Linked DNA regions of Homo sapiens. The protein of the gene in region 1 purifies or fractionates together with the protein of each later gene. This does not show direct contact. Each region holds a gene or a part of one and is shown in the gene's direction. Other genes may lie near its edges. The genes, in order: UTP20, VPS41, NOP58, ANKRD22, NOL6 and UPF3B.

Region 1 (5,227 bases):
GGACTGTAAGCAGGGGAATGAATGACATGATCAGGTTTAAATTTTCAATCTCTCTGGCTTTAGTGTGGAGAAAAGAGCAGGACTGCAGTTCTTCATCATGTCATGATTCCTCTGCTAGCCTTTTAAGGTCCTGTGTAACATGCCTTTAACTTGGAGATCCAATCTCAGTTGTCCAGTTGTGAGGATTTGACTGTTATCTAAGTAAGAAATGATTATGGTAGCAGCAATCAAGATAGAGAGAAGAGAAAGATTCCAGAGATGTTGAGGAAGTAGAATGAATGGATAGGACTTGTGACCTACTGGGTTTGCAGCAAGGAAGATAATGAGGTTAAGGCTGAATGGTTGAGGATGTTACTCATCAAGATATATTTATAGGTAAAGGAGCACAAGGTTGTAAAGATAAGATAATTAGTTCCATTTGGGGCTTGAATTTGAAATACCTTTGGCCATCCAAATGATAGTGTCCAAAAGATGTTTGTATATATGGATCTGGAGTATAGGTGACTTCAGAGGTGAAATTACAGATTTGGCATTTAGAATATGATTAATAATTTAAGCCACAGGAGAGGTTGAAGGTATCAAGAGGCAGTGTTAAGAAGGCAGAGAAGACAGCCTGAAATTAGAATCCTGGACTGGATGGTCCAGAATGGCCTCTGTCACGTGTCTGGCAGTTGGCTGTGGCTTGTTGATCTTGGTTCTTTTCATGGCCTCTTATTCCCCAATAAGCTAGACTAGGCTTCTTTTCATGGTGGCAGAATCTTTTCAATAGAGTGAAGGCAGAAGCTGTCAAGACCTCATAAAGTTTTGCTTTGGTCATGAGAGTCACTTTCATCGCATGTTATTAGTCAAAGCAAGTCAGGAGGCCAGGCCAGATTCAAAGGGTGAGGAAACAGACTCCGTCTCTTGGTGAAAGGAGCTCCAGAGTTACCTTGCAAAAGGACGTGACATGGTCTCTCACACATAGCTGACATACGCCAGGTCTGTGCTAGGCTAGAAATGCGTTCTGCATTTAAGTTTTAAACTGTGTTGCATATTTTCTTTCTGCCTTAAAGGACATGAAAATGCCTTAAAGGACATGAAAACAACAACAAAAAAATTTTAATATTTTTACTTTTGAAAAATAGAGATAGGATCTCGTGTTGTTGCCTAGGCTAGTCTCAAACTCCTGGGCTCAAATGCTCTTCCTGCCTCAGCCTCCCACTGTTGGGATTACAGGCATGAGCCATTGTCCCCAGCCTAAAACAAAATTTAATGGGATTCTCTTTCTTTTCTGCCTTTTTTTTTAATTTTTAGTTTTTAATATTTGTGGTTACATAGTATCTATTCTGCCTAACTATTGATTTTAAAGATTTCCAAAGAACAGTTTAAGGATTTTTTTTTTTGATATTGTAGATTTGGCATGCTGTTTGCATGTGTGCTTATGTGTTTATTCTCTCTTTTTTCTCTCTCTCTATAAACACATATTTGTATTTATTTTTATTTTTATTTCAACTTTGATTTTAGATACAGGGGGTACCTGTGCAGGTTTGTTACATGGGAATATTGTGTGATGCTGAGGTTTGGAGTATGGATCCTGTCACCCAGGTAGTGAGCATAGTACCCCACAGGTAGTTTTTTTTAACCCATCCCCACTTCCTCCACCCTCTAGTAATCCACAGTGTTCATTGTTCTTATATTTATGTCTATGTGTACTCAATATTTAGCTCCCACTTATAAGTCAGAACATGCAGTTTTTGGTTTTCTGTTCCTATGTTAATTTGCTTAGTATTATGGACTCCAGCTGTATCCATGTTGCTGCAAAGGACACGATTTCATTCTTTTTTAAGGCATATAATATTCCATGGTGTATATGTACTATATTTTCTTTATCCAATCTACTGTTGATGGACACCTGGGACAATTCAATGTCTTTGCTATTGTGGATAGTGTAGAGATAAACATACGAAGGCATGTATCTTTTTGGTAGAATGATTGTTTTGGGGGGGTATGCATTTATTTATACATCTATATACACACATACGTACATGTATACATACATGTCATACATGTATGATAATTTATTGGCTTTACCTTTCAAAGTACAAAGTAATTGATACCATGTTAACAAGTTAAGTAACATAGTGGTAAACTTACGAAAAGCCCATTATCTCACTCCTCCCACCCCTAATTCCCAAGGAAGCCAACACTGACAGTTCAGTATAGTTGTATTCTTCCATACTGTCCTCTCATGTTCGTATGTACAAACATTTATAGAGGGTTTTTTATTTTTGTTTTTTAAGGAAAATTGAATCCTGCCATACCCTCTCACTGCATAACTTTTATCATTTTGGGGGCATATCTTCAGTGTAGTTCTAGTTCAATAGAGATATAGCTCTTTTTAGTAGCCACATAATATACCTTAGTATATATAGACCATGGGCTATTCCAACCATTTTCCTATTGTCGGATATTTTAGCCTGTTTAATGTTTCCCCACACTGTAGTTAAGCTGAATAAACATCTTTTACTTAAAGGCTTGCAAACTTTATAAGAACTACCTGGGTCAAAGAGCGTAACTATTTTGAATTTTAACAGGAATGCCATATTACTTCTTTATAAGGTTGTAGTAATTCATATTTCTAAAAGCAGAATGAAGGAACTGTAAAGAACCAACACCTTATTCTTTGCCTAAAATTATAAAAAAACACAGAAAATAATTTTCCCTTAGTGGACAATATATATAGGCCCCAGAAAATTATTTGCTGAAACCAAATCAACAAAACAGCATTTTATAAGTGGCCTATTGATAACTTCTGATTGCTTTTTAGTGTGTTACTTAATGGCCTGTTTTAAAAAACTAAAAGGAGTTCTTAAACTCTTCAGTATCATTGTCTTAAGATATTAATATATCATTATTCTATTTACCTTGATCATTGCTTTCTTAGAGTTATTTGATTAATGGACTGCTTTAATCTTGACAGGAGGTTGAAACCTACTTTTTTGAGGGTCTGCTGAAATGGAGAGAATTAAACCTCACAGAACACTTCGGTATTTTCTATTTCGTTTCTATTTTATTCACCCATAGTTTGCACTTTATATGTTCCATACAGCTGAATAGTGGTGTGATAGAAAAGAACATATTTTTTTTTCCCCCACTCAGGAAAATTTTACAAAGAAGTTATTGACAAATGCCAATCATTCAATCAGTTGGTGTATCACCAAAACGAGATAGTTCAGAGTTTGAAGACTCACCTGCAAGTTAAGAACAGTTTTGCCTATCAACCCCTTTTGGAGTAAGTAGCATCTTGAGAGAAAGCTCACAACTATATTTGCCTGAATTTTAAGAAAGATTGTGTTTCAAAGCTACATATACCGCAGATCAGGTGCTCATAATTTAGAAACAAGGAGGATTTTCCTTTTCTGTTAGGAATAAGTGCATTACCATAAAGTGGAATCTTGGGGTATAATTTCGCATTTGTTATATACTAAGATAATCTCATTTTTCTTTGACACTATAGGAACAGTTGGCTACAACTTATGATGGAATGTAACTTCTTGCCTGATTTCTTTGCTGAGATCTTAAGATTTAAAGAATTTTATAATTTTTCAGACTTGATTTAGAAGTATTTTTATTTAATTAATCCTATGATCATAGGCCACCTACTATCGTTAAGTAGATTTGTAGCCTTTTAAAAAAATCCACATGATCAGTTGCTTCTTTTTTTAATCCAGTTTGGTTGTACAGTTGGCACGAGATCTGCAGATGGATTTCTACCCACACTTTCCAGAGTTTTTTTTGACTATCACCTCGATCCTGGAGACTCAGGACACAGAGTTGTTAGAATGGGCTTTCACCTCGTTATCATATCTTTATAAGTACCTGTGGAGACTGATGGTGAAGGACATGTCCAGTATATACAGGTAACCCCTTTCTCTCTCTAGTATGTTTTTTAATTGCCTGCTTCTTTTTCCCTGGCTTCTTTATGACTCCAAACCACTTTGCCAGCTCAGTGCCTAATTGTTTCCATGTACAAAGTTGATTCTCCAGCCAAAGTGGTCCACAATCTAGTCTGCCAGTCTGAGTTGCCATGACCATCTCTCCTCTCCAGCTACTGGAAGTATACCCACCCAAGAAGGCCTGACTCGGTCCCTACAGCCTCCACAAACAGGCACCTTTGCCAGAAGTATTAATAAAATTTTGTACTCTCTATCCTCTTGGCATTTTTTAACCACCTATGTCACACAACTTTTACCAGAATTGTTTGGTTATAATGTATTGCTGTCCTCTCTACACCTGGTATAAGGGAGGTTTAAGACAGGTTAAGAGCCCTGTTTTAAACACTGACATTTCCCCAGCCACTAATACTTACTAAGGTGAAAGAGACACTCAGTATTTGTGAGTAAATGTGGACAAGGAAAGAGAATGAATTTTGTAGTAACCTTTTGTTTAAAGTAAGCATAAATTGTCTTATTATCTGTTTAAGTCTGGGGTTTGGTGGGATTTTCCACTTGGTCTTCCGGTTGTTTTCATGTTCTATAATTGCCACAGGAGTGTTTAATATCAGTCATCAGCCCCTTACCCCACAGTAAATGGTGTATGCATGGTATGGGACAATAGACTTTGTTTTATGCCACCCGTTTCACTCAGCCCACCGTTCTCTTTTAGGAACTTTGAATGAAGAAAGAGAAAGAAATCTTTTTCCAGCCTTTACTAGTTCCCTATGAAGCTTTTGGTCAAATATGTTAGAAACCAATATTATTTCATTAAACAACCAACAAGGTCTTTGGGGAATAATTGATTTAGTTTTATGACTTCAGCTGTCATAAAAGCTGCCACTTTTATGTCTCCTAAGTCAGGCTCTTCAGTTCTAAATTTATTTGCTTTCGGTGTGACAACTTCAGTAGCCTGGCTATTTTCACTTGTATTACTGAAACTGAACTCAACACTTTCCTGTTAAATCAACTCCTCTTATCTGTACATTCATTCAAGTGTTCAGTAAATAGGTATTGAGTGTCTGCCGTATGCCAGGCCCTGTTTGGTTGCCCATTTTCTGTCATTAATACTAACGTTCTTCCTGTCTCTGAGTTTTGGAATATCAGAGGCATCACTAACCCAGTTGTCTTCAGAGGTGTCCACATCCTCTTGATTCTGTCATTCATGCATTTGCTCAGTCAATATTTATTGGACACTGTCTGTATGTCAGGCACTTGAGATACAGTCACAGATAAAACAGATAAAAAATGCTCTT
Region 2 (5,227 bases), on another chromosome or scaffold:
GGTGGTGGGGAAAGTAGCTGACTTGGGTAATATCTGTAAGCTGTTAAAGCTGTCATCCAAATGTTACAGTTAGTCCAGAATGGGGATGGGGCAAGTCCAACCTAAACTCTTGTCCATGCACTTTATAGAAGGAACAAGATAGCTTTCTTAGTTGTACATTTCGTAAAACTAAGGACAGAAGTAGATGGCACGACCTGCCTCCCAGGAATGCTAAATGGAGATTTATTGTACAATAATATTCCCTGCAACTCTTCACCACACCCAGACCCATAGTCTGAAAATTGATGAAATATTTATTGAACAAACTTTTAATCATATAATTGTTTGGTCTGTTATGTGACTAAAAGTGAATACTTTTAGGGATGGTTTAAATTGTTTGGTTTGTTTTGAGAATTTAGGAGAAACCAAACTCAGTTTCTCATGCTATACTCTCACAACACAACACTTCTGTGACCAAATATCTGGGTTTTTCCGCTACACACCAAGAAAGCAATTAGTTCTGCAGTGGACACCAGCTGGATGTCCTCTAATTCAGTTCATTCTGACACTGTCTACATGAAGATAGCATCAGTTCCTGCAGGCTGAGGGCTCAGGCCCACAAGACTGCCCCCACTTCAGACATACCAATCACAAGTTATAGGCTGTCACCTGTACTTCCGACTGGTCAACTATAAACTGGAATTCCCACTACCACCTCCTTAGATTTGACTCATTTGCTAGAGCAGCTCATAGAACTCAGGGGAACACTTTACTTACATTTACTGGTTTATTATAAAGAATATTGCAAAGGATACAGATGAACAGCCAAATGGATTAGATGCAGAGGGCAAGGTATGTGGGAAGAGGCATGGAGCTTCCAGGTCCTCTTTGGGTGCACCACCCTCCAGGAACCTCCAGGTGTTCAGCTCTTGGGGAGCCCTCCAAAGCCACTCCTTTTGGGTTTTAATGAAAGCTTCATTACTTAGACATGATTGATTTAAACACTGGGCCATTGGTGATCGGTGTAACCTTCAGCCCCTCTCCCCTCCTTGGAGGTTGTGGGGCAGGGGTGGGGGTAGGGCTGAAAAGTTCCAACCCTTTAATCCTGTCTCAGTCTATCCTGTGCCCAACCCCATCCTTAAGTTACCTAGGGGCTGCTAGCCACCAGTCAGCTCATTAGCATACAAGAAGACACATCATTTTAGAGATTCTAAGGATTTTGAGAGTTATATGCCAGGAAACAGAAGGAGGACCAAATGTATATTTCACAATATCACAACTATTATTCTGTTGAATGAGTGTTCTTTTTCTGTTTTTCACCTTTGGTTAGGGTTTTGCCACATTGATCCGAGAATGGCCTGGAGATCTGTATAATAATTCAGTCATAGTTCAAGCAGTTCGGGATCATTTGAAGAAAGATAGTCAGAACAAGACTTTACTTAAAACCCTGGCAGAATTGTGAGTATACTTAAGTGTTTCTTTTTCCATATCAGTCTGTGTTGAAAAGTTTTTCATACTTTAGATTTGGCAAACTCCAAGTGGAGAAGATGTATTTTATACCATTTTCCTACATTCCTTCTTAGTAAAAACCTCTCATAAACCTCAAATGAGTAGGCGATAAGGACATGTGTGAAACTGTACAATTGCAATGTAATCTGTTTCCCAGAGAAGAGAACCCCTAACGCACAGCGCTTGGGAGAGGCAGTGGTTAGGAAACAAAAGGGTGCCAAGTTTTAGATCACTCAAGCATAACAGTTTCCCAATGAGCAAGGCTCTGGATTCTGCTCTTCTAGGGTCTTCAAGTCAGTTAATTTAATCTCTCAAATGTCAATTCCTTATGGGAAAATTTTAAACTTTAAAAGAGATGTCATAATAGAGGACTCCCTGACCCTGAGTCAGGGCTCAGAAAATGGCAGCTTGGTTAATATTTTTCATATTTCTTGGGCACATTCAGTGATGCAGGCTTTGTGCGAGACGCTTATGATACAGAGATAGATAAGATATGCTCTCAAGTACTTCGATCTAGGGAAACAAGAAGTATACTGCAGGTCTAGCCAAGACGACCATCCCTGCATCCACCTCTCCTCAGTGCCCCCATCACCTCAGGCCACTCCTCTCCCTTGTTTTTTCTTCTTTTGCCCAAAACCAAAAAAGGTATACCAAAATGACCTAGAACTCTGGACGTGTTGGATTTTCCACAAGAGGAGGTTGTGTTTATGGCATTCTAAGTTGAAATGCTAATCATTTTCTCTTGGAAACGTTGTCCTGTTAGATACCCCTTAGAGTCTGCAGCACGTTCGTAATGGACCAACAGTACAGCTTCAGTTCAGTGAGCTCTCAAGAGCTGACTTAGGGACTTAATGTGAAAAACATTGTTTCAATGGAAAAACACATTTCAGTTAGACACAGCCCCCTTAAAATCAGCTTTTGGAATATTAGCCATTTGTCAGCTGAATACTGCTTGTAAGAATTGGAACGGATGTTTCTGTTACTAAAATGAGAACTTCATCCTGGATCCTAGTTTCTTTGCTGTATGGATGTTTGTAAAACTTTTGAGACTGAGACCCCCAATAAAGACCATTTTTATTACTTGAATATTGTGAATTTTCTTAAATTTTGGCAACATGAGAGGCAAAGTTCTGAGAAAGAAATACTTATTGGTCGTGTATAGTTAAATCCTATTCAAAAATAGGAATATTTTTTGAAATAAAGTTAACTTTTCTCTCTAAAGGAGTGTTTCCATTTTTAATATTGTGAACCATGATCTCTCTGTGTGTGTTTTAATTAGAACTGTTGATGAATATTAATGTAAAAAATTTGTATTACCAGGTACACCTATGACAAGAACTATGGCAATGCTCTGGAAATATACTTAACATTAAGACATAAAGACGTTTTTCAGTTGATCCACAAGCATAATCTTTTCAGTTCTATCAAGGATAAAATTGTTTTATTAATGGATTTTGATTCAGAGGTAATGTGCTTTTTATTTTAGTACTGTCAATTATTTTTACTATTCCAAATATTTAATACTTAGATATCTATCCAAATGCTGGATTGGTGAATGAATCACATAACTTGGCTTTATGCCGACAATCTTTAGAACACTCTGACCCTCGCTAGATGTTGTTATTCTAGTTGTTTGGCATTCAGGAATCCTTTTCATAATGTAGTTATTCTGTGAAAGCAATTCAAAGTTGATAGAGAACTTTTAAAGTTGTGTGTGTGCGCATATAAAGTAATTTCTTGCTAAAACAATTCATATAATTTATAGAAACAAACCACGTATATACTTTGACTCATTTATCCCTCCTAACCTGTTTTCCAGAATTTTAAAATTAAGTGAACTTCCATCTTGACCGACTTATTACTATTTTATTTCTTGGTGTTCACGTATCCAGCATGTGGGGTTTCCCCTGGTTTGAGGTGATGCTCATGTCCAGGACATGTGGAATGTTATTTTATTGTGTGACAAATTTGAATAACCTAATAATAAATTTACGCCCCCTAATGAGTGGACCCAGCCACAGCTCACATTGGTGCTTGCAAAGTGATGCAAGCTGTGTGTGTGTGTGTGTGTGTGTGTGTGTGTGTGTGTAAAAGAAATCTAATTACAAGTGCTCATGACAGAAATAATGAGGTTTATAAAACAGTGTTCTTATTCAAAAAATTGAAATTTTAGATAAACCTAAAAGTAGAACCCTAAAGGCTCCAAAAGGATTAATGCATTTTTCAATTATATTGTACTGTATTTAGAGATATTGTGTGCTATATTAATCTCCACCAACTTAAACTTAATTTAGATAGGAGCTAGAGCTACGTCTTTTTCTCAAAGATGCTTTAGCCCTTTTTAAAATACTGAGTCAAGTCTTTAGGGACTACAGATTTACGAAGAATTACGTAGCTCCAAGGAAGTTCAGGTAGAGAGGCTCTGCTTGTCTGGCAGAGGATGAGATGCTTATGTAAAAATTAATTACATTTTCCTCATATCTAGTCTCCCCTCATGCACCCCCTTCCATTGTTCTCCAGAGCTCGTTTTGCATATGTTCCTGTGGAAAAAAGATGAATGAGCTGAAACTAATTGCTATTCTAGAATGTGATCCAGATGTAAGGAATCAGAGTCTTCTGGTTAGAAGAGACCTTAGGGATAATCTACTCCAACACCCTCGTATTTCAGAGAACAAAAGTAACATTTGGAGCAGACAGCTAGGTCGTAGCAGAGTCTAGAACAGGGCCCCCAGGTGTTCCGTGTGAGGCTCAGTCTGGTGTGCTGCTTTCCCTCTTCCTCTTGACATAAACTGTCTAGTTTGTGTTTCCTGAATGATAAAAGTGGCTAAAGTAAATTCTGAAAGTCCAAAAGCTTTATGTCATTATGAAACTTCAGGTATCTCATTCTCTTTCTGACTCTTATTCCCTTCTCCTCATAAAACCAGCTCCTTCTGTCTGTGGAGTCTCATAGGGAGACTAGGTCGAGGTTGAAGTAGCTGGAAGAAAAGCTCATTTTCTTGATATACTGGTAAAGAGATGCTCTCCATAACTACTGAGAGTCTCATGAGAAGGTGTGAAGGTATCCGAGACATCGGAGGGCGGGGGGCTAGGATATGGGCAGTCAAGATGTTTTGTATTTGGGAAGTTATAGCAAAGCACCATTTTAGTAGTGTGCAAAACACATAGGCTTCAGATTGAGATGCATTTGAAAATGCAGTTCTTCACAAATGTCATTTTCCATAAGAGCCATTGTAAAGCCAAGGGCCTCCTTAAGTATACAAAATAAGCCTTCCACCTGTGAACTGTGGTAGGTACACTGCATTGTGTTTAGTCTTCTCTTCTTAAATAACGGATTTCATTGACTGTGGCTTTTCTTATATGTTTCAGAAAGCTGTTGACATGCTTTTGGACAATGAAGATAAAATTTCAGTGAGTGTCATTTGTTTTTATATGTGTTACCAGATGAACGTCTGGGACTCCTATAGCTGTGAAGAAGAGAGTTTATCAGATAATTTTGTAGCTGTCTTTCTGTCCTCATGACTCCACCTTGAAACTTTTCTTTTTTATCTAGATTAAAAAGGTAGTGGAAGAATTGGAAGACAGACCAGAGCTACAGCATGTGGTGAGCATGGCAGTCTCCTCCTTTTGCCCTTTTGATTGACCAGTGGGTGAATCACCTTTCAGTATTGGTGCGAGGAGGATACTGGAGTGAATTCTTCAAGGAGGTTAATATTCCAGTTGGAGGTTTCACCACAAACAA
Region 3 (5,227 bases), on another chromosome or scaffold:
CCTGTAATCCTAGCACATTGGGAGGCCAAGGCGGGTGAATTGCCTGAGCTCGGGAGTTTGAGAGCAGCCTGGCTAACATGGCGAAACCCTGTCTTTACTAAAAATACAAAAAAGTAGCCAGTCGAGGTGGCGTGTGCCTATAGTCCCAGCCACTTAGGAGGCTGAGGAAGGAGAATCACTTGAACCCAGGAAGCAGAGGTTGCAGTGAGCTGAGATCGCACCACTGCACTCCATCCTGGGTGATGGAGTTAGACTCTGTCTCCAAAAAAAGAAAAAAAAAAGCGCTCAACCAGCGATTCCTTTCCTAGATTTATACCCAAAAGAATTAAAAACAGAACTGAGTTGCTTGTACACCTATGTTCATAACAGTGTTATTTACAAAACCAAACAGTGGAAACAACCCAGATACCTTTTAACAGATGAATGGATAAACTGCATTGTGGATGCAGCTTGAATGTCCCTAATCTGAAATTCAAAATGCTCTGAAATCTAAAACTTTTTGTGGTACCACACAAATCCACAAGTGGAAAACTCCACACCTGACCACACGTCAAAACTTTGTTTTATGCACAAAATTATTTAAAATATTGTGTAAAATTACCTTCAAGGTTTTGTATATAAGGTATATGTGAAATGTAGATGCATTTCCTATTTAGACTTCGAGTTCCATCCTCAGCCTCATACGTGTTTGCAAATACTCTGAAATACTTCTGGTCCCAAGCATTTTGGGTAACGTACACCCAGCCACTTCACACAGTGGAATGTTAGTCAGCCTTAAAAAGAAATGAAATTCTGATACATATTTCAACATGATAAACCTTGAAAATATGCTAAGTGAAATAGTCACAAAATACTGCATGATTCTGCTTATATGAAGTACCTAAAATAGGTGAACTCAGAGACAGAAGTATAAAGATAACTAGAGGTTGGGGGGAAGGTGGGAATGAGTTACTGTTTAATGGGTACAGAATTTTTCAGTTTCTGATGATAAAATTGCTCTGGCAATAGATCCTGGTAATGGTTGCATAACATCATAAGAATACTTAATGCTACTGAATAGTACACTTGAAAATGGTTGAAGTGTTATTTTTTATTCTTTTTTTTTTAAATTTTTTGCGACGGAATCTTGCTCTGTCACCCAGGCTGGAATGCAGTAGCACGATCTCGGCTCACTACAACCTCCACCTCCTGTGTTCAAGTGATTCTTCTGCCTCAGCCCTCCAGAGTAGCTGGGACTACAGGTGTGCACCACCATGCCTGGCTAATTTTTGTATTTTTAATAGAGATGGGGTTTCACCATGTTGGCCAGGCTGGTCTTGAACTTCTGACTTCGTGATATGCCTGTCTGCTGGGATTACAGACATGAGCCACCGTGCCCAGCCTGAAGTGTTAAATTTTATGTTGTGTATGTTTTACCACAATAAATCCCTTTAAGTTTTGTTTGTTTGTTTTTAATCTACTACAGCCTTGTTAGATGACTTGGATAAAGAACTAAACAACTACATTATGCGATGTAGAGAATGGTATGGCTGGCATTTCCCTGAATTAGGAAAAATTATTTCAGATAATTTAACATACTGCAAGTGTTTACAGAAAGTTGGTGAGTAATTTGTTCATCCTTTAAGGCATTGAAAGTAAATGAATTTGATTGCATCCTAAAACATGACGTATAGCATTTTGTTAAGCAAGATTCCCAGGGTTTTTGCAATTTCTGTGTATTTGGGAAGTGTAGCAGTTTAGTGTCTTAAATTTAAGAAACAAAATGAATTTTAACTTAGATTTTGATGGCCTATAACATGATATTAGTACCTAATGCTAAATAGCAGTATTGCCGTCTGTACTGTTAATATACAGAGGAACTTGATTGTTGATTGTCGTTAACGTACAGAGGAACTTGATTGATTGATGGTTTACTTGCCTTACGAATTACTGGCCCCAGCTTCAGTATAAAATTGTCTGTGACATTATTATTAGTCCTGTCTTTTTTAAATTTTTGCCACTTATATTCTGTAATAAGTGTTGTGGCATATTTTGTCCTCTTTTTACTCTGATTATTTTTTGGAAGAAGGTGGTGGGGAGACATTTAATGTCTAAACTTAAACCCTTAAATGAGGAAAACTGTTATACTAGGTCAAACTTCTTCATTTTTTTTGTTTTGTTTAGGCATCCTTTTCATTGGCTTTCTACTTTTTCTTTTGACTATTTGCTGGATTTTATATAATTTGTTGAAGAGTGATTCTCCCTCATCCTCTGCAAACATTCCATAGGCGATAGGAAGAACTATGCCTCTGCCAAGCTTTCTGAGTTGCTGCCAGAAGAAGTTGAAGCAGAAGTGAAAGCAGCTGCAGAGATATCAATGGGAACAGAGGTTTCAGAAGAAGATATTTGCAATATTCTGCATCTTTGCACCCAGGTAAATTTTACTCCTGGAGAATCTAGTTGTGGTGTTACCAGCTCTATAGTACTAATTTTTCTGATGGCAATGATGATTTTTACACTTATTGTTGTTCACCTGATAACATAAATATGAGGGTGTTCAGTCACTACCTCATCTGATGCCATCATGATTTGTATACTTAAAAGGGGGAAATACATATTAAAAGGAAGTAATTTACAATCATCGTCTGAATAATGAATTAACCAAAAATCAATTAAGATGGCAGAGAAGGCCAGGCGCGTTGGCTCACGCCTGTAATCCCCGCACTTTGGAAGGCCGAGTCAGGGATTGACCTGAGGTCAGGAGTTCGAGACCAGCCTGACCAATATGATGAAACCCCCATCTCTACTAAAAATGCAAAAATTAGCTGCGCGTGGTGGCGTACACCTGTAATCCCAGCTACTCGGGAGGCTGAGACAGGAGAATCGCTTGAACCAGGGAGGGGGAGGTTGCAGTGAGCCGAGATGGCACCATTGCATCCAGCCTGGGCAACAAGAGCAAAACTCCATCTCAAAAAAAAAAAAAAAAAAAAAAAGGATGGCAGACAATTATGGATTGAGCCTTTTAATTCTGAGTCTTATGTCTATATCTTGTGATTTTTTTTTCTTTCAGATTTGAAGGTAGCCATATAGGAATTAAAAAGAGCATGATACAAATGTTTATTGCTCAGAATCTTTTTTTTTTTTTTTTTTTTTTTTTTTTTTTTTTTTGAGACAGAGTCTCACCCTGTAGCCCAGGCTGGAGTGCAGTGGCACGTTCTCAGGCTCACTGCTACCTCTGCCTCCCAGGTCCCAGTTCAAGCGGTTCTCCTGCCTCAGCCTCCCGAGTAGCTGGGATTACAAGCACGTGCCACCATGCCCAGCTAATTTTTGTATTTTTCATAGAGACGGGGTTTCACCATGTTGGCCAGGATGGTCTTGAACTCCTGACCTCATGATCCACCTGCCTCGACCTCCCAAAGTGCTGGAATTACAGGTGTGAGTCACTGTGCCTGGGCTGCTTAGAATCTTTTAAAAATACAGTTACGCTGACTAAGATTTTCAGGCAGTGGACCAAGTAGTTTACATACATTATATAACGAAGTCCTCATTACAGCCATCTTATAGAAAACTGATGTTAGGATCATGAGGTCAAGAGATAGAGACCATACTGGCCAACATGGTGAAACCCTGTCTCTACTAAAAATACAAAAAATTAGCTGGGCGTGGTGGCGGGCCCCTGTAGTCCCAGCTACTCCAGAGGCTGAGGCAGGAGAATCACTTGAGCCCGGGAGGCGGAGATTGCTGTGAGCTGAGATTGCGCCACTGCGCTCCAGCCTGGGAAAAAAAAAAAAGAAAACTGATGTTAGGCATAGGTGATGTACCCAGTACCCAGGGTTGTGTAGCTGCTCTTTCATAATTGAGGGCTCCAGTGTTTTAGACAGGAATTTTTACTGTTTTTACTCATATGATATTTGTGACTTAACTTTATTCCTTATACTAGGTGATTGAAATCTCTGAATATCGAACCCAGCTCTATGAATATCTACAAAATCGAATGATGGCCATTGCACCCAATGTTACAGTCATGGTTGGGGAATTAGTTGGAGCACGGCTTATTGCTCATGCAGGTGATGGTTTTAATGTAATTTGTAAATATGAGTGTTTGAAGTATTTTCTGGTTAGGATTTTGTTTACATCTTTAAACTACAGCTGTTAAAGAAATTTTAGCTGATAACACAAAAGTAGATGATATGTGGGAGATCACTAAGGGCCAAGTGTTCAATGATGATTTCTATTTGTTTGCCTGATTTCCTTTTGGATAATGAAGGCATCTTTAGTCACTACCTCTTCTGAGACACTTGTGGTCCATTGTTAGAAGTTTGTTAGGGTTAATTAGAACAATCGGATGAATGCAGGAGGATAAAACAGTTAACATTTTCATAATAAAAACTCACTAGACCTAGATTTGAATACAGTTTTAAGAAATCACTGTAGAGAAAGAAAAAAAAAAGAAATCACTGTAGAGGATTTGTGCCCTTGATTGATTACCTTAGTTTCACTATTGAGTGTGAGGATGTAATATATTTGACTTTCAAAAATATTTTCAACAACTGATTTATAATAAAACTTTGTATATGTGTATGGCAGTATTATAAGGATGATATGCTATAATTAAAATGCTATGTAATTGAATACCTACAAATACAATGAAGTACTGATTCATCATTTTTATGTTACTTGGAGACATTGTTATAATTCATCAAAAAAGATTATATCATCTGCATCAGAGTGTTTAAAATGGCATAACTCCTTTTTTTTTGTTTGAGACAGAGTTTCACTCTGTTGCACTGGCTGGAGTGCAGTGGCTCACTGCAACCTCTGCCTCCCAGGTTCAAGCAATTCTCCTGCCTCAGGCTCCCAAGTTGCTGGGATTACAGGCATGTGCTGCCACCATGCCTGGCTAATTTTTATATTTTTAGTTGAGACAGGGTTTTTGCCATGTTGGCCAGGCTGGTCTCAAACTCCTGACCTCAGGTGATCTGCGCACCTCAGCCTCCCAAAGTGTTGGGATTACAGGCGTGAGCCACTGCGCCCGGCCTGGCGTAACTCCTTTAGCTGCATCATTAATCAAAGGTTTCATTCAAATGCCCTCAGCTATAAGATCAGATGATTTCATTGTCTCTACCCATTTTCATAGGTATAGCTAAACTTGTAGCAGTAAGCAATGGCAGGGGTTAATAGAAGTATGTATTTGTTGGCCAGGCGTGGTGGCTCACGCCTGTAATCCCAGCACTTTGAGAAGCTGAGG
Region 4 (5,227 bases), on another chromosome or scaffold:
GTTAAGAGTTTTCCTATGAACAAACCACAAAATGGATAATCGTACACATGGTAGATGATTAAGGGATAACTATCAATTTTCATAGTAAATTCAGTCCTAAGTTTATATCTCAGTGTATCTTTTTTTCCAAAAACTAAGTGGGTATAAGAATCTGTCTTCTGATGAGCTCTGCTGTGTACATTTCACCTTTGTTGACTCCCAGGAGCCCTTCCCTAGCTTTTCCTTTACACTGGACCGAGTTCTCTGTTCTGCTCCATGGAAAGCCGCATTCAGTAATCAGATGTATCCCACAGGAAAAGATGCCATGGGTACCGGAAAAACAAAAAGCACAAACTAAACTTTTTGAGATGGCCATCTGAATAAATTTTGAATTGAAATGCTTTATTAGTAAAGAATCCTTTTCTTAATTTTTAGAAAGAGAGAACCTGCTTGCATTATGCTGTGAAGAAAAAATTTACCTTCATTGATTATCTACTAATTATCCTCTTAATGCCTGTTCTGCTTATTGGGTATTTCCTCATGGTGAGTACAACACTTGTAGAGCAAAGGGCAAATGTGGAGATCGATGGTGTGACTCATTGACTCTTGCCAGGCCAGTGAGATGTTGAAAAGAAATAAAAACAAAAAAAGCCTTTGGTTTGTATTCTGTAATTGACATGTTCAACATACATCCAATGCTATAATTGAAGTACAGCAAGAAGAAAGCTAGCAAAAATAGTTAATCAATGGTAACATAATCCATGCAATGTTGATTTAGAAAAATAATTTAACCTTAACTAAGACTTTTCTGAAGGGAGCAAAAAAATTCTGAATATTAAAAAACACCCCTTCTAATATTTTTTTCTCCTTTTTTTAAAAGAGGAGTTTGTGTTTTTGGATTTATCTTTCTGACTTACTGATTTTTAAGTACTCCTCTGGTGGTGTGTTGAAAAACAGATCCTAAAAGTTTGCATCCAGAAGCTGACACACACAGAAGATACTTGTTGAGAATTTAAGCCCATTTTCACCTTGATGAATTTCTTCATGCTTGGATGAATCTTGGCAGACAGCAATTTTCTTGAATAAAGAAAGATGTAGTTGGTATAGAGATGCAGTCATATGAGGAGTAGAAGATGAAGCTTGAGATGGTTTTTGGTTTTTTTTCCCAATAGGGTAACAGATCTGCACTGACTTACTCACTTTTATCCATCTAGTTTCCTTTGTGCCCAGTTCCACTTCTCAGACATGACTCAAGAGATGCATAATTTACTTTAATTAAATGACCAAGCTCCCTCCTTGTTGTAGCTCATAAACTGTGAATATTGGTTACACCTGTTAACATCAGCCGCAGAACAAGTCTGCCCGTCAAAAATGTTATTATTTCATTGGGTATTTAAATGCCACAGAATTTGAGGAACTATAATTAAACATGACAATGTTGATTTTTATATTTGGATTTATAGGAGAGAGAAAAGAACTTTAATTCACTAATAAAAATATAATCTGCTCATATCCTCGAAGAATTCTTTAAAAATTCATTATGTATTTAGCACATAGCATTTAAATACATGTATTTTGGGGGCAGGGAGAATCTGTTATTTATTTACAAACATTTTTAGAGATTCTAAAGGTAAAAATTACAACTGTGATTAGAAGGCTCATTCAGAATTTATTGACACACAACTCTGCTTTCTAAGATGGTTCAATGTTTAGAGGCTGGAGGACTGGGCAAAAATAGTAATCGTAATGAATAGCTCAACTCTAGTTTCATGCACGTGCAATTTATTAATGGGGCCTAAAGTTGTAAATTTGTGATGAATTAACAAATAAGTGACATGAGAGGAAATGATAGGGGAGGAGAGAGGAAAGCATTGGGTTATTTCAGAGAAAAGTAGGCAGAGAAAGGCAGTTTAGGAGGTGACACAAGAGGGAAGCCTAAGGAGAGAGAACTGGATGGAGCTTCCCAGGTGATGACAGGGTTGAACTCCAGGGCTATACCCAGCTGAGCAGGGAGAGCTTTGCCTCTTCAGGAGACTGGAAGTTGGGGAAGACTCCAACAGGCTTGTGGTCAGAAGCTCAGGAGACTGGGAAGGAAAAGTGAATTTCTGAGGAGTCCTAGTTCATTTCATTAATTTGTTCAATTCTTTAACGTATGTTTATTATGGACCTACTATGTGCCAGACGCTGTGCTAGCTGTTAGGGACACAATGATGAACAAAATAGGCATAGTTTTTTACCCCATGAGAGTTAGAGGGTGGTGGGGAGAGTCATTAATCAAATGGCACAAACACATGTAAAATTACCATAAAGCGGGTGATACAGAAAGGCGACTGGTGTTAGGATAGCTAAAAAAGAGGGATTTCACCTGGTCAGGTGGGTCAGGGAAAGCTTCTTAGAGAAAGAGGGACTTGGGCTGATGAATGAAAGGTGAATATGCCAGGCAAAGAAGAGAGGGAGGAGGCTTCTAGGCAGAAGGAACTTCCTGTGCAATGATTCTCTGAGAATGAAAGATTAACAAAGGCCAATGTAAGTAGAACAGAGTGAGCCAGGAGGCGCAGAGTGAGAGAGAGGCCAGGGCAGGGCCATACGTGGAGCCAAAACATACGGGGCTTTGTAGGTCATGCTGAAGAGTTTACTTTTGTCCTCAGAGCAATGGGAAGTAATTGCACAGCTTTGAGCCAGGAAGGGAAAGACAGGTACTAGGCCCCATCCTCAGTGGAATTAGGTAGGTTTGGGGTGGGACCTGAGAAGTACATTTCTAAGGTTCTTAGGTGTCAGTGCCGCTACTTCAGGACCACAGTCTGAGAACCTGGCTTTAATTAATTGATATTAGAGTGAGTGAGAAGCTGGGGGAAATTTTAGGAAGGGTGCATGCATGCATAGGAGTGTTGGGATTAAAATGAAGCCTATTGATTAAATAGTCTCAGGCATAAATTGGAGAAACTATTTGTAAATAAGCCTTTCTTATAATTACCATTTGTAATAGGTATCAAAGACAAAGCAGAATGAGGCTCTTGTACGAATGCTACTTGATGCTGGCGTCGAAGTTAATGCTACAGATTGTGTAAGTTTATACTTTTAGCCATTTTGAAAAAATATTCAAAATGGTATTTGTAGGTAGCGTATTTGTCATCTGTACAGTTGCTTTATTTTCCTAGACAATTTTACATTTAGTTTTCTTTTATTTTCTCCTTTTTTTTCCCACTGACAGGCAACCTTGAGGTTATTTATATTCTGCTGAACTCATGGGAATAATACCTCTATTGATTATAAAGCATTTTTAAAATAATTGGCTTTAATGTTGTTGAGACGTTAAGGAAAACTAAGGCTCCGATAACAAAATACCAGCCATAATAGTTAAGAAGCTGGAGTGAGAATGCCCATGAGTAAACTCTGGGCTTGCCACTTTTTACTTCTATGAGTTTGAGCAAGTTGTAAACTTATTTTACTTTCAGTGTCCTCATCGGTAAAATGGGGATATGGATAATACTTATCTCATTGGGCTTGTTCATGTAAAGCACTTAGCACATGCTCAGAATGTAGTAAGTGCTCATTGAATGGCAACAGCTGCCACTGCAGCCAAAATCCCAACCCACTGATGAGAGGCCCCGTGTGCAAACTACAGATAAATAAGACAAAGGTCAAAGAAAAATCCCACTGATGGTAAGAGCAGTGATAACAACAGTAGCAGCATCCGCTCACTTCTTCCTGTTTATGAGCATAAGGTGTTGTTTTCACTTTCACCTCTGTGCTCTTGCACTCATCTTTCTTTCTCAATGATCACAGAAAGACAAAAGTTTATTTCTATGGTGTTTTGCTTATGGTGATTGAATAAAATTTTGGATTCCCAGTTCCTTATTGAAAAAGTAGGCAAGTGGAAATTTGATTCCAAAATACTAACATTCTATTTGTGATGCCTAACATATTTTACGTGTGTGCACATCTGTGTGTATTACCATTGTTTTATGATAGAGACCATGGCCCCATTCCTGTTTCTATCAATTATTTACATCATTTCGGTTTTGCCTATGCTGGTATCATGTTTAAATGCAGGCAGTTGTGTGTGTGTGTGTGTGTGTGTGTGTGTGTGAGAGAGAGAGAGAGAGAGAGAGAGAGCAAAAGAAAATAACTTTATGAAATTTATATTCCCTTTTATTTCAAATAGAACTTTTGGATAAATTTGTATTGACAGTTACTGTGCATTACCATTTCTTTAGATAGCTTTGAAATATATTAAGTAAGAGATTATTAAAGATGAAGTTAAAAGTTTGTTGAAGGTTTTTCTTGGTCTTTTCATTTAAATTCAATAGATTTAATATTCCTGCCTGTGACCAAAATTTCTCTAGGATATTTTCTCAGCAATTTATGTGTATTTCTCTCTCTAGATAGAGATATTGCATTCCTTCAGCTAGGCACAGTGACACTAGCCTGTAGTCCCAGCTACTTGGAAGGCTGAGATGGGAGGATCCCTTGAACTCAGGAGTTTGAGACACATGCAGGTACACACACAGACACCACTTCTAATACCAAAATTTTTTCAAAAACTATCTGAGTATTAAAATCTACTTTCTAGGTAAGACAGTGTTTTGTATTTTTGGATAATTAGACTCTATTTCACATGACAAAATTCAGAGCCAGAACTTCCATTTGTCATGCCACCACTTAATAAAAATAAATAATTGCAACATGATCTCCTATAATTTTAGAGGTGTTTCTAGGGAATGGGATCCAGAGCTAAACCTGTCTTGATAGCCAAAGGTACTATTTCTTCACTCACCAGCACCATGGTTGCTTGGCTACTTTTCCAAAGGCCAAATTTTGGACACTAATGCCCTAGCTATAATTTTTTTGACCTGTAGTGTTTTAAATTAGTACCAACAGAGTAGATGCACTAGCTTATAACACATAATATAAGCTATAACAAATCACGTTTGGGAAATGTCTCTGTAGAACTGCACTGATCTTGCAGGTGTCCTGCAGCAAGAGCACCCGACTTCTTCAGTAGGAATCATCACCAAAACCATAGAGGATAATGTTTATGTAAAGGGCCATGTGGAGACTCTTTAAGGGAAAGATGGTGACATGATCAAGGTGATGATCACCGAGGCATATAGCATGCGACAAAGAAACTTTGGCACAATTCAGCATCAGCTTTTTTAAGTTGCATTCTTTAGAACAGAAAATGGAAAACAAAAAGGCAGAGATTGATGGCTTATATGACACTAACATACATATACATTGAGACAGA
Region 5 (5,227 bases), on another chromosome or scaffold:
GCAAGTACCAGAACCCCAGAAACTCCTCTTCAAAGAGTTAAGTTTAGGGCATGTCTCCTGGTCTAAGCCCTTGGATCAATGAAGGGCACAGGGATGGTCCCTTCTGTGGCTCCAGGTACAGCATGAGGCACGGCTGTCTATGATGTTGCTGGACAGCAGAGCTGACGACGGGTTCCACCTGCTGTTGATGACTCCCAAACCCATGATCCGGGCTTTTGACCATGTCCTGCAGTGAGTTTAGGGGTGACAGGGTATGTTGGCGGGTCCTGTCTCTTCGGGGCTACAGTGGTGGGGCAAAGGTCTTCAGACAGGTGCTCAGATCATTCAGGGAGGAGGTGGTACTAGGGGCCAGCAACCTGATTACCCCTCTTTGGCCCTTTGTACCCCTCCAGTCTCCGTCCACTGAGTCGCCTGCAGGCAGCGTGCCACCGGCTGAAGCTCTGGCCAGAGCTGCAGGACAATGGTGGGGACTATGTCTCAGCTGCTTTGGGCCCCCTGACCACCCTCCTGGAGCAGGGCCTGGGGGCTCGGCTGAACCTGCTGGCTCACTCTCGACCCCCAGTCCCAGAGGTGAGGTGGTGTAGGTTGGGGAGTTTGGGTCTGAGTTGGGCTGGATCCAGGGTCCCAAGAGACACAAAGGACACACCATTCCTCCAGCTAGGCGTTTCTAGCTAGCTAGAAAGTAGGTTTCTAGGCCAGGCTGGAGGATTGGAGGACTGAGCTCAGCCTTTTGAAATCCTGCAGTGGGACATCAGCCAAGATCCACCAAAGCACAAAGACTCTGGGACCCTGACCCTGGGACTCCTTCTCCGGCCTGAGGGACTGACCAGCGTCCTTGAGCTGGGTCCAGAGGCAGACCAGCCTGAGGTGGGGGACCCCAGCATGTACACTGGAAGGAATGGGGTGGCTCGTCCTCATGGCACCTGGACTGAAGCTTGTTGGGGAGGGTCCACAGAGCCCTTCCTTCCCCAGCTCTACTACCACCCTTGCCTCCTCAGGCTGCTAAATTCCGCCAGTTCTGGGGATCCCGCTCGGAGCTTCGGCGTTTCCAGGACGGAGCCATTCGGGAAGCTGTGGTCTGGGAGGCAGCCTCTATGTCCCAGAAGCGCCTTATTCCCCACCAGGTGGTCACCCACCTCTTGGCACTGTGAGTGTTGGCATCTGGATTCCAGAAGGCAGTGTGGGCTGGGGAGCCTTTTCAGGGGTCTGGCCCAGGCAGTTGAGCGAGAACATAGCCCCAAATTTTCTCACTGTGTCTCTGCCTCTTTTTCAGCCATGCTGACATCCCAGAAACCTGTGTCCACTATGTGGGGGGCCCCCTGGATGCACTTATCCAAGGCCTGAAAGAGGTAAGGGTCTTGGGGTCAAGGCTAGTGATTGTAGAGTAATCAATCTGCGGGGAGAGAGTCCTCTCAGCCTTGGCCAGCTTGCACTTCCTGGCATGTCCAGCAGGCGGCGGTGCTGGCTCTGCTGCAGCCTGAGCTGGGGCAGAATCCAGGTGAAGCTGGCCTTCTGTAGGGTCCAGCCTCCTGACCGTCTTCTCCCTCTCAGACCTCCAGCACAGGTGAGGAGGCCCTGGTAGCGGCGGTACGTTGCTACGACGACCTCAGTCGCCTACTGTGGGGGCTAGAGGGTCTCCCACTGACCGTGTCTGCTGTTCAGGGAGCTCACCCAGTGCTGCGCTACACAGAGGTGAGGTGCAACGGTGCAGGTGACCTTTCTGCTTAGTGGCCCCACCTCTGCTCCAGTCACCCAGTATTCCCCACTTCCAACTCCTGACTCTGGGCACTCCCTCCCAGTCCTAGGCCCATTCCTCAGCCCCTCTTCTTCCACAGGTGTTCCCACCAACTCCAGTCCGTCCAGCCTTCTCCTTCTATGAGACTCTGCGGGAGCGGTCCTCACTGCTGCCCCGGCTCGATAAGCCCTGTCCGGCCTACGTGGAGCCCATGACCGGTAAGAGGGCCCTTGGGAGGGAGTGGGAGGGATAGTTCCAGCTCCAGGCCACAGTATGAGACCTCTGACTCTTCTTCCTCAGTGGTTTGTCACCTGGAGGGCAGTGGCCAGTGGCCACAGGACGCTGAGGCCGTGCAGCGGGTCCGAGCTGCCTTCCAGCTGCGCCTGGCAGAGCTGTTGACACAACAGCATGGTCTGCAGTGCCGTGCCACTGCCACGCACACGGATGTCCTTAAGGTTAGGCTGGTGCAGGCAGATATGTCCCCAGGGAAGGGGGGCACCAGGGATGTCAGGGCGTGGAAGAAGACACCCCTGTGGGTACCACGCTGGGTAATAGGGCTGTAGGCCACAGAGTACTCCCGGGGTTCTGGGCTGACACATCCTTCTCTTTCCATACCTTCTTCCAACAGGATGGATTTGTGTTTCGGATTCGCGTGGCCTATCAGCGGGAGCCCCAGATCCTGAAGGAGGTGCAGAGCCCAGAGGGGATGATCTCGCTGAGGGACACAGCTGCCTCCCTCCGCCTTGAGAGAGACACAAGGCAGTTGCCACTGCTCACCAGTGCCCTGCACGGGTAAGGCCACTGACACAGCTTCTTCCTGTCTGTAGGCCCCCTCCTGCCCCCATTCTCCTCACCTAGCCACCTGTCTCTCCAGGGGCCAGATGGTATCATAGTTAGGGGTATGAGTTCTGGAGTCAGGCAGGTTCTGGAATCCTGGCTCTGCCACTTACTGACTGTGACCCTATGGTCAGATTTTCCTCCTTGGTCCCTATATTTGTCATCTGTAAAATGGAAATAACACTAGGGTCAACTTCTTGGTGCATTTCTTAAGAGAATATGAGATTACATATGTAACCTATTATCACTGAGGCTGGCCTTGGGTAGGGGCTGGATGAACAGTGGCAGTGGGGCCCTGAGTCTCGCTGACACTCCCCTTCTCTCTGCAGACTGCAGCAGCAGCACCCAGCCTTCTCTGGTGTGGCACGGCTGGCCAAGCGGTGGGTGCGTGCCCAGCTTCTTGGTGAGGGTTTCGCTGATGAGAGCCTGGATCTGGTGGCCGCTGCCCTTTTCCTGCACCCTGAGCCCTTCACCCCTCCGAGGTGATTCCCTCCACTTTTTCCCCAGCTGAGAAGTTTCCTTGCGGCCAGCCATCATCCTTCGTGCTGCACCCTAAGTCTACATGGGAATGGGTGGTTGAGCAAGTGGCAGAAGGGGTTCTAAGATGCCCTGCCCTGCCAATCCACACCAGGGGGTCTGAGCTCCATAGCCTGAGAGAAGCCTGGGGATATGTGGCTGGGCCCTGGATTCTTTGCTTACTCCAGCCCTTTAGTTCCCCCCAGGTTGGCTTCCTTCGATTCCTTTTCTTGGTATCAACGTTTGATTGGAAGAACAACCCCCTCTTTGTCAACCTCAATAATGAGCTCACTGGTAAGTGGTAGAACAGGGGTCAGACTGCTGGAAGAACAGCTCTTTATGGATTGCAGGCAAGGGTTTCCCTGGCAGTGTTAGGTTTTCTCTGTGCCTCCCCAGCCCCAGATGTCTAAGCCTGACATGAAGAAGAGGTCCAGGTGAACAGCCTGACCATTATGACATGGTTTGCTCTTAATTGTCAGAGACAGAATGATAGGGTGGTAAGCAAGCTACCTGGCGGGGGGCTGTGGAAGGAAGAGGAGAATAGAAGGGGGATCCTGAATACCACGTAAGAAGTATTAGGGCACGGAGCTAGGAAGTGTAGCACAGATACTCAGACCTCTTGGTGGGGGTGGGAGTGGTGATTTCTGGTTGTAACGTGAGGCACTCGGTCTCTGCAGAGAGCAGGGTGTCAGGTTCCTAATTCCCCAGGTGTGTGGAAGCCCATGGTGGGAGGGGGCCAGGGGCAAGACTCAGCTTGTGCAGGCCCGGAAACCAGACTGGGGGTGCCAAGCAGTGGAAAATTTTGCCTCTGGGCTGAGGTTGGGCGATTAATGCCCCACCCAGTTGAGGCAAATGCGATGTCCCTTTCGTCACCTTTGCCACTTGGTGGGGGGGAGTGTTGAAAAATACCTGTGATGAGCAGCCGTTGGGGGCACCGTAGGAGGACCTGGGGGAGTAGAGGGTGTCTTACAGGGAGGAGCAGGCTGACCCAGGACCCATTCTTGTCTCTAGTGGAGGAGCAGGTGGAGATCCGCAGTGGCTTCCTGGCAGCTCGGGCACAGCTCCCCGTCATGGTCATTGTTACCCCCCAAGACCGCAAAAACTCTGTGTGGACACAGGATGGACCCTCAGCCCAGGTTCAACCCCATACCTGCCCCCTAATGTGTGGTTTTCTTCCCAAGGAAAAAGCAGGCCCAGCCTGACCTGGGAGAGACCCACTTCAGTTCCAGTCTGATGTGTCTGTACCCCGCAGATCCTGCAGCAGCTTGTGGTCCTGGCAGCTGAAGCCCTGCCCATGTTAGAGAAGCAGCTCATGGATCCCCGGGGACCTGGGGACATCAGGGTAAGCTTCTGACCAGCAGTGACTCCAGGGCCTCTGGGGATTCTGTCTTTGGAAGTTCAGCGTTCAGGGATCTCACAGGAGACCCGGTCCCCTTGTTTGGTGAGACTGAACAGAGGAGGTGTTGAAGCTGCTGTGGTGCCTGGGGTGGCAGAGCCTGGGGAACCTGGGTTCCATCTGGGTCTCCTGTTTCTAGCCTGTGCTCCTTCTGCCGGGCTATGCAACAGCTGTTTGCTCTGTGGGTCTTGGTGCTTCAGTCTTCAAATGGGCAGGTGGGCCCATAGAGGGTGGTCAGATGGAAGGAGGAAACCAAGGTGGGCGTGTGGAGAGGTTTGTGGTCCAGTTCCTCAGTCAAGGGGGTCCTGCTGACCCCTCCTTCTCCCCTTCCTTAGACAGTGTTCCGGCCGCCCTTGGACATTTACGACGTGCTGATTCGCCTGTCTCCTCGCCATATCCCGCGGCACCGCCAGGCTGTGGACTCGCCAGCTGCCTCCTTCTGCCGGGGCCTGCTCAGCCAGCCGGGGCCCTCATCCCTGATGCCCGTGCTGGGCTATGATCCTCCTCAGCTCTATCTGACGCAGCTCAGGGTTGGTCCTAAACAGCTGAATGACCTGGGGAGGGGACTTCCAGGTGAAGCTGAGGCTGTGGAGGAGCTCTTAAATGCCTGCCTATAATCTTCTCTGTTCTGTCCCTTTCTAGGAGGCCTTTGGGGATCTGGCCCTTTTCTTCTATGACCAGCATGGTGGAGAGGTGATTGGTGTCCTCTGGAAGCCCACCAGCTTCCAGCCGCAGCCCTTCAA
Region 6 (5,227 bases), on another chromosome or scaffold:
ACACATTTCTACTTTAACACTCTATTATCTGCTACCTACATTTAGCCAGAGAATATCTAAGCTGCCATTTGCCACTTTTCTTTTTGGTTTGCAATTATAGGTAAATAGTGTGTCTTCTTGTTTTGTTTTGTTTTTTTCAATATTACTTCAAAGTTGGTAAAAATTAAATTTTTGTCAGGGACTATGCCAGTAAAAATTGAAGGATTGCCACTGTTTGTCCAACTTTTATTAATCTCCCCAAGCCAGCTATTTTTCCACTCCAACTATTTTATTCCAGTAGATATTTAACTAGATTCTAGTTACTTAGCCTGGAAATCTGAGTTGTGTTTAATTTTTTCCTTTTTTAAAAATCTCTTACATGTAAGTTATGAATCTTGTCAATTTATTGTTTATCTTTTGAGATAGGGTCTCCACCCAGGCTGGAGTGCTGTGGCGCAATCAGAGCTCACTGCAGCCTGGAATTCCTGGACTCAAGCAATCCTCCCACCTCAGCCTCCTGAGTAGCTGGGACTACAGATGTATGTCACCATGCCTGGCTAATTTTCTTTAAATTTTTTATAGAGATGGGGTCTCACTACGTTGCCCAGGCTGGTCTTGAACTCCTGGGCTCAAGTGATTTCCCCCCCCCCACCTCAGCCTCCCAAAGTGCTGGGATTACAGGTGCGAGCCACCATACCCAGCTCAACACCACTTATTAAAGAGACTATCCTTTCCTCATTGTGTTTTTTGTTTGTTTGTTTGTTTTGTTTTGTTTTTAAATCTTAGAGACAAGGTCTGCTTATGTTGCCCAGGCTGGATTTTATTGTTTTTTTTTAATATCTTGTTCACCTAGCCTTAAACAGTCACACTTTATGTCCTCATCACTTAATGCCTAGACAACCACTGTCTCTAAACTTACAGGATTTTCCATTTTTTTCATTCTTGTATAATTCAGTCTATTATATTGCCATGAAATTAATCTTTTTGAAAATAATGATTTAAATTAACAGTTGGGGGAAAAAGTCCAAACTCCTTAGCCTGGTAGTCAGGGTCCTCCATATTCTGGCCTCACTTCTGTTTCTTCAGCCTGTCTTCCACAATTTCCCTCTGTTTCAGTCTGGTTTATCTATTCCTTCTCAAATATATCACAGTTTTGTTTTTTGGTTTTTATTTTTGTTTTTTTTCTTTTTCTTCTCTCTCTCTCTCTTTTTTTTTTTGAGACAGAGTCTTAACTCTGTCGCCCAGGCTGGAGTACAGTGGCACAATCTTGGCTCATTACAACCTCCGCCTCCTGGGTTCAAGCAATTCTCGTTCCTCAGCCTGCCGACTTAGCTGGGATTACAGGTGTGTGCCGCCACGCCCAGCTAATTTTTGTAATTTTAGGAGATGGGGTTTCACCATGTTGGCCAGGCTGGTCTCAAACTCCTGGCCTCAAGCAATCCACCCGCCTCAGCCTCCCAAAGTGCTGGGATTACAGGCGTGAGCCACCATGCCTGGCCTAATATATCACAGTTTTGAAGCTAATCTGATTCTCTACTCACTGGGATTCCCAACATAATTTTTCCTCCATGACTGCTTTGCAGTGCCTTCTGGTCAATTCTGTTTATTTTTATTTTTCTGCTTATGTCTACATGCCAATGATTTAAGGATAGGATACCTTGTTTTTGACATTCTGTGACAGGGTGCTTGTGAATTTTTTTCCCATTAGTCACTTGGGGTTTTTGTATTGAAATATAACTCACCTATAATAAAATTCATCCTCTTAAAGCGTACAATTCAGTGGTTTCTGGTATATTCACAAGGTAGTACAACCATCAGTACTAATTCCAGAATGTTTTCATCCCTCCAAAAAGAAACCCATATCTATTAGTAGTTACCTCCCATTCTCTCCCTCCAGCCCCTGGCAACCACTAATCTACTTTATGTATCTATGATTTCCCTCCATTTCATATAAATGTAATCATACAATATGTGGTCTTTTCTGACTGGCTTCTTTTACCTAGCACAATGTTTTCAAGGTCCATCCATGTTGTAACATATAACATATATCATTACCTCATTCCTTTTGCATTTTTAAAAATTGTAAAAATACACGTAACATAAAATTTACCATCTTAACCATTTTAAGTGTACAGTTCAGTAGCATTAAGGTATATTCACACTGTTGTGCAACAATCTTGGGAACTTTTTCATCTTGAAAAACTGAAACTCTTTACCCATTAAACAACTCCTTATTTCCCTTCCTCCAGCCCCTGGCAACCACCATTATACCTTGTGTCTGTATGAGTTTCACTACTGTAGGTACCACATATAGGTGGAAACATACAGTGTCTGTCTGGCTTATTTCATTTAGCATAATATCTTCAAGGTGTATCCATGTCGTAGCATGTGTCAGAATTTTCATCTTTTTTTTTTTTTTTTTTTTTTTTGAGATGGAGTCTCACTTTGTTGCCCAGGCTGGAATGCAGTGGCGCGATCTCAGCTCACTGCAACCTCCGCTTCCTGGGTTCAAGCAATTCTCCAGCCTCAGCCTCCCAAGTAGCTGGGATTACAGGTACCCACCACCACAGCTGGCTAATTTTTTTGTACTTTTGGTAAAGATGGGGTTTCACTGTGTTGGCCAGGCTAGTTTCAAACTCCTGACCTGAAGTGACATGCCTGCCTCAGCCTCCCAAAATGCTAGGAATTACAGGCATGAGCCACTGCCCCCAGCCTCATTTTTAAGACTAATATTCCAGTATATGTATATACCACATTTTGTGTATCCATTCATCTGTCAAGGGGTATTCGAGTTGCTTCCACTCTTGGCTATTGTGAACAATATTGTTATGAACACAGATGTGCACATATTCGAGTCCTTGTTCTCACTGCTTTTGGATATATACCGAGAAATGGAATTTCTGGAGTCATTTGGTAATTCTATTTTTATTTTATTATTTATTTATTTTGAGACAGAGTCTCTGTCACACAGGCTGGAGTGCAGTGGCATGATCTTGGCTCACTGCAACCTCCACCTCCCAGGTGCAAGCAATTCTCCTGCCTCAGCCTCCCAAGTATCTGGGATTACAGACACCTGCCACCACACCCTGCTAATTTTTTATGTTTGTGGTAGAGACGGAGTTTCACCATGTTGGCCAGGCTGGTCTCAAACTCCTGACCTCAAGTGATGCGCCCACCTCGGCCTCTCAAAGTGCTGAGGTTACAGGTGTGAGCCACTGTGCCCCGCCGGTAGTTCTTTTTTGTTTTGTTTTGTTTTTTTGAGATGGAATTTCGCCCTCATTGCCCAGGCTGGAGTAAGTACAATGGCGCGATCTTCCCTCATTGCAACCTCCACCTCCTGGGTTCAAGCAATTCTCCTGCCTCAGCCTCCTGAGTAGCTGGGATTACAGGTGCCCACCACCACACCCAGCTAATTTTTGTATTTTTAGTAGAGATGGGGTTTTACCATGTTAGTCAGGCTGGCCCAATAATTCTATTTTTAATGTTTTATGGAACTGCCATACTGTTTTCCATGCAGCTGCATCATTTTACATTCCCACCAATACATGAGTGTTCCAGTTTCTCCACATCTTTGCCAACACTTGTTATTTTCTGCTTTTTGATAGTAGTCCTCCTAATAGGCGTGAGATGATACCTCATTGTGGTTTTGATTTGCATTTCCCTAATGACTAGTAATGTGGAACATATTTCCATATGCTTGTTAGCCATTTGTATATTATCTTTGAAGAAATGTCTATTCAAGTCTTTTGACCATTTTTTAAATTGGGTTATTTGGTTTTTTGTTGTTGAGTTATAGGAGTTCTTTATATATTCTCGATATTACCCCTTATCAGATAATATAATTTGCAAATATTTCTCCCATTCCATGGGTTGCCTTTTCACTCTGTTGATTGTGTCTTTTGATGCATAGAAGTTTCTAATTTTGACGTAGTCCAATTTATCTATTTTTTACTTTTTTTAAATAAGAGATATACTTTATATTTTTGTTTTATTGTGGTAAGAACACTTAACATGAGATCTACCCTCTGTATTTTTACTTTTGTTGCCTGTGCTTTTGGTGTCCTGGTGTATTTTTTTTTAAGTGTTAACAGATTTTTCCCCAGCTTTATTGAGCTATAATTGACAAATAAAATAATATATATTTAAATTTTACTATGTAATAATTGTTTTTTCTTTTTTCTTTTTCTTTTTTTTTTTTTTTTTTTACCAGGCTCGAGTGCAGTGGCACAATCTCAGCTTACTGCAACCTCCGCCTCCCAGGTTCAAGTGATTCTCCTGCCTCAGTCTCCCAAGTAGCTGGGATTACAGGCGTGCACTATCACGCCTGGCTAATTTTTGTATTTTTATTTATTTTTATTTTTATGTATTTATTTTTTTGAGACGGAGTCTTACTCTGTCGCCCAGGCTGGAGTGCAGTGGCATGATCTCGGCTCACTGCAATCTCTGCCTCCTGGGTTCAAGTGATTCTCATGCCTCAGCCTCCAGAGTAGCTGGGATTGCAGGCACGTGCCACCACGCCCAGCTAATTTTTGTATTTTTAGTAGAGACAGTGTTTCACCATGTTGGCCAGGCAGGTCTCAAACTTCTGACCTCAGGTGATCCTCTCATCTCGGCCTCCCAAAATGCTGGGATTATAGGCATAAGCCACGGTGCCCAGCCCAACGTGATAATTTTATATATGTATACATTATGAAATGTATACATTATGAAATGTATACATATTGTATACATATATACATTATGAAATGTATACATAATGTATACATATATACATTATGAAATATATACAATCAAGTTAACACATTCATCACCTCACATAACACATCACCTCAAATAGTTACACTTTTAAAAAATAACAGCTTTATTGAGATATAATTCACATGCCTGAAATAGTCACCCTTTTAAAGTATACAGTTCAGTGAATTTTAGTATATTCATAGGCTTATGAGCCTATCACCACAATCTAAATTTAGAACATGTTCATCACCCCTAAGAGAAACCCCACCCATTAGTTGTCACTCCTCATTCTTCTCACCACTTCTACCCCAAACTCCAGGCAGCTACTACTCTACGTTCTGTCTCTATAGATTTGCCTATTTTGGAGATTTCTAACATTTTAAAATGAAAAATAGTTTGTAGGGTCTTTTTCACATTAAAATATCACATTTTATAAGTTGAATTTATATGAATATTTTACTTTCATGCCGTGTTGTTTCACTATGTTATCAGTGTGAATTTGTGGCTCCTT

The links.
Region 2: the proteins of UTP20 (region 1) and VPS41 fractionate together in Homo sapiens (co-fractionation; one large-scale study listed by BioGRID). This does not show direct contact.
Region 3: the proteins of UTP20 (region 1) and NOP58 fractionate together in Homo sapiens (co-fractionation; one large-scale study listed by BioGRID). This does not show direct contact.
Region 4: the proteins of UTP20 (region 1) and ANKRD22 purify together in Homo sapiens (co-immunoprecipitation; one large-scale study listed by IntAct). This does not show direct contact.
Region 5: the proteins of UTP20 (region 1) and NOL6 fractionate together in Homo sapiens (co-fractionation; one large-scale study listed by BioGRID). This does not show direct contact.
Region 6: the proteins of UTP20 (region 1) and UPF3B fractionate together in Homo sapiens (co-fractionation; one large-scale study listed by BioGRID). This does not show direct contact.

What each region holds. Positions count from the first base shown.
Region 1 is NC_000012.12:101,282,611-101,287,837, forward strand, and holds part of UTP20 (small subunit processome component 20 homolog), read left to right. Parts: intron 1-2,959; coding exon 2,960-3,026; intron 3,027-3,138; coding exon 3,139-3,271; intron 3,272-3,710; coding exon 3,711-3,899; intron 3,900-5,227. UniProt on the Homo sapiens protein: Part of the small subunit (SSU) processome, first precursor of the small eukaryotic ribosomal subunit.
Region 2 is NC_000007.14:38,754,564-38,759,790, reverse strand, and holds part of VPS41 (vacuolar protein sorting-associated protein 41 homolog), read left to right. Parts: intron 1-1,309; coding exon 1,310-1,437; intron 1,438-2,808; coding exon 2,809-2,953; intron 2,954-4,854; coding exon 4,855-4,896; intron 4,897-5,038; coding exon 5,039-5,089; intron 5,090-5,227. UniProt on the Homo sapiens protein: Plays a role in vesicle-mediated protein trafficking to lysosomal compartments including the endocytic membrane transport and autophagic pathways. Acts as a component of the HOPS endosomal tethering complex.
Region 3 is NC_000002.12:202,288,858-202,294,084, forward strand, and holds part of NOP58 (nucleolar protein 58), read left to right. Parts: intron 1-1,465; coding exon 1,466-1,600; intron 1,601-2,267; coding exon 2,268-2,413; intron 2,414-2,459; exon of another isoform or gene 2,460-2,571; intron 2,572-3,919; coding exon 3,920-4,046; intron 4,047-4,193; exon of another isoform or gene 4,194-4,277; intron 4,278-5,227. UniProt on the Homo sapiens protein: Required for the biogenesis of box C/D snoRNAs such as U3, U8 and U14 snoRNAs. Part of the small subunit (SSU) processome, first precursor of the small eukaryotic ribosomal subunit.
Region 4 is NC_000010.11:88,823,854-88,829,080, reverse strand, and holds part of ANKRD22 (ankyrin repeat domain-containing protein 22), read left to right. Parts: intron 1-414; coding exon 415-522; intron 523-2,965; coding exon 2,966-3,043; intron 3,044-5,227.
Region 5 is NC_000009.12:33,463,034-33,468,260, reverse strand, and holds part of NOL6 (nucleolar protein 6), read left to right. Parts: intron 1-115; coding exon 116-231; intron 232-325; exon of another isoform or gene 326-392; coding exon 393-570; intron 571-744; coding exon 745-867; intron 868-998; coding exon 999-1,147; intron 1,148-1,273; coding exon 1,274-1,349; intron 1,350-1,551; coding exon 1,552-1,692; intron 1,693-1,835; coding exon 1,836-1,953; intron 1,954-2,035; coding exon 2,036-2,190; intron 2,191-2,363; coding exon 2,364-2,527; intron 2,528-2,901; coding exon 2,902-3,054; intron 3,055-3,284; coding exon 3,285-3,382; intron 3,383-4,099; coding exon 4,100-4,224; intron 4,225-4,340; coding exon 4,341-4,430; intron 4,431-4,819; coding exon 4,820-5,014; intron 5,015-5,126; coding exon 5,127-5,227. UniProt on the Homo sapiens protein: Part of the small subunit (SSU) processome, first precursor of the small eukaryotic ribosomal subunit.
Region 6 is NC_000023.11:119,845,463-119,850,689, reverse strand, and holds part of UPF3B (regulator of nonsense transcripts 3B), read left to right. Parts: intron 1-5,227. UniProt on the Homo sapiens protein: Involved in nonsense-mediated decay (NMD) of mRNAs containing premature stop codons by associating with the nuclear exon junction complex (EJC) and serving as link between the EJC core and NMD machinery.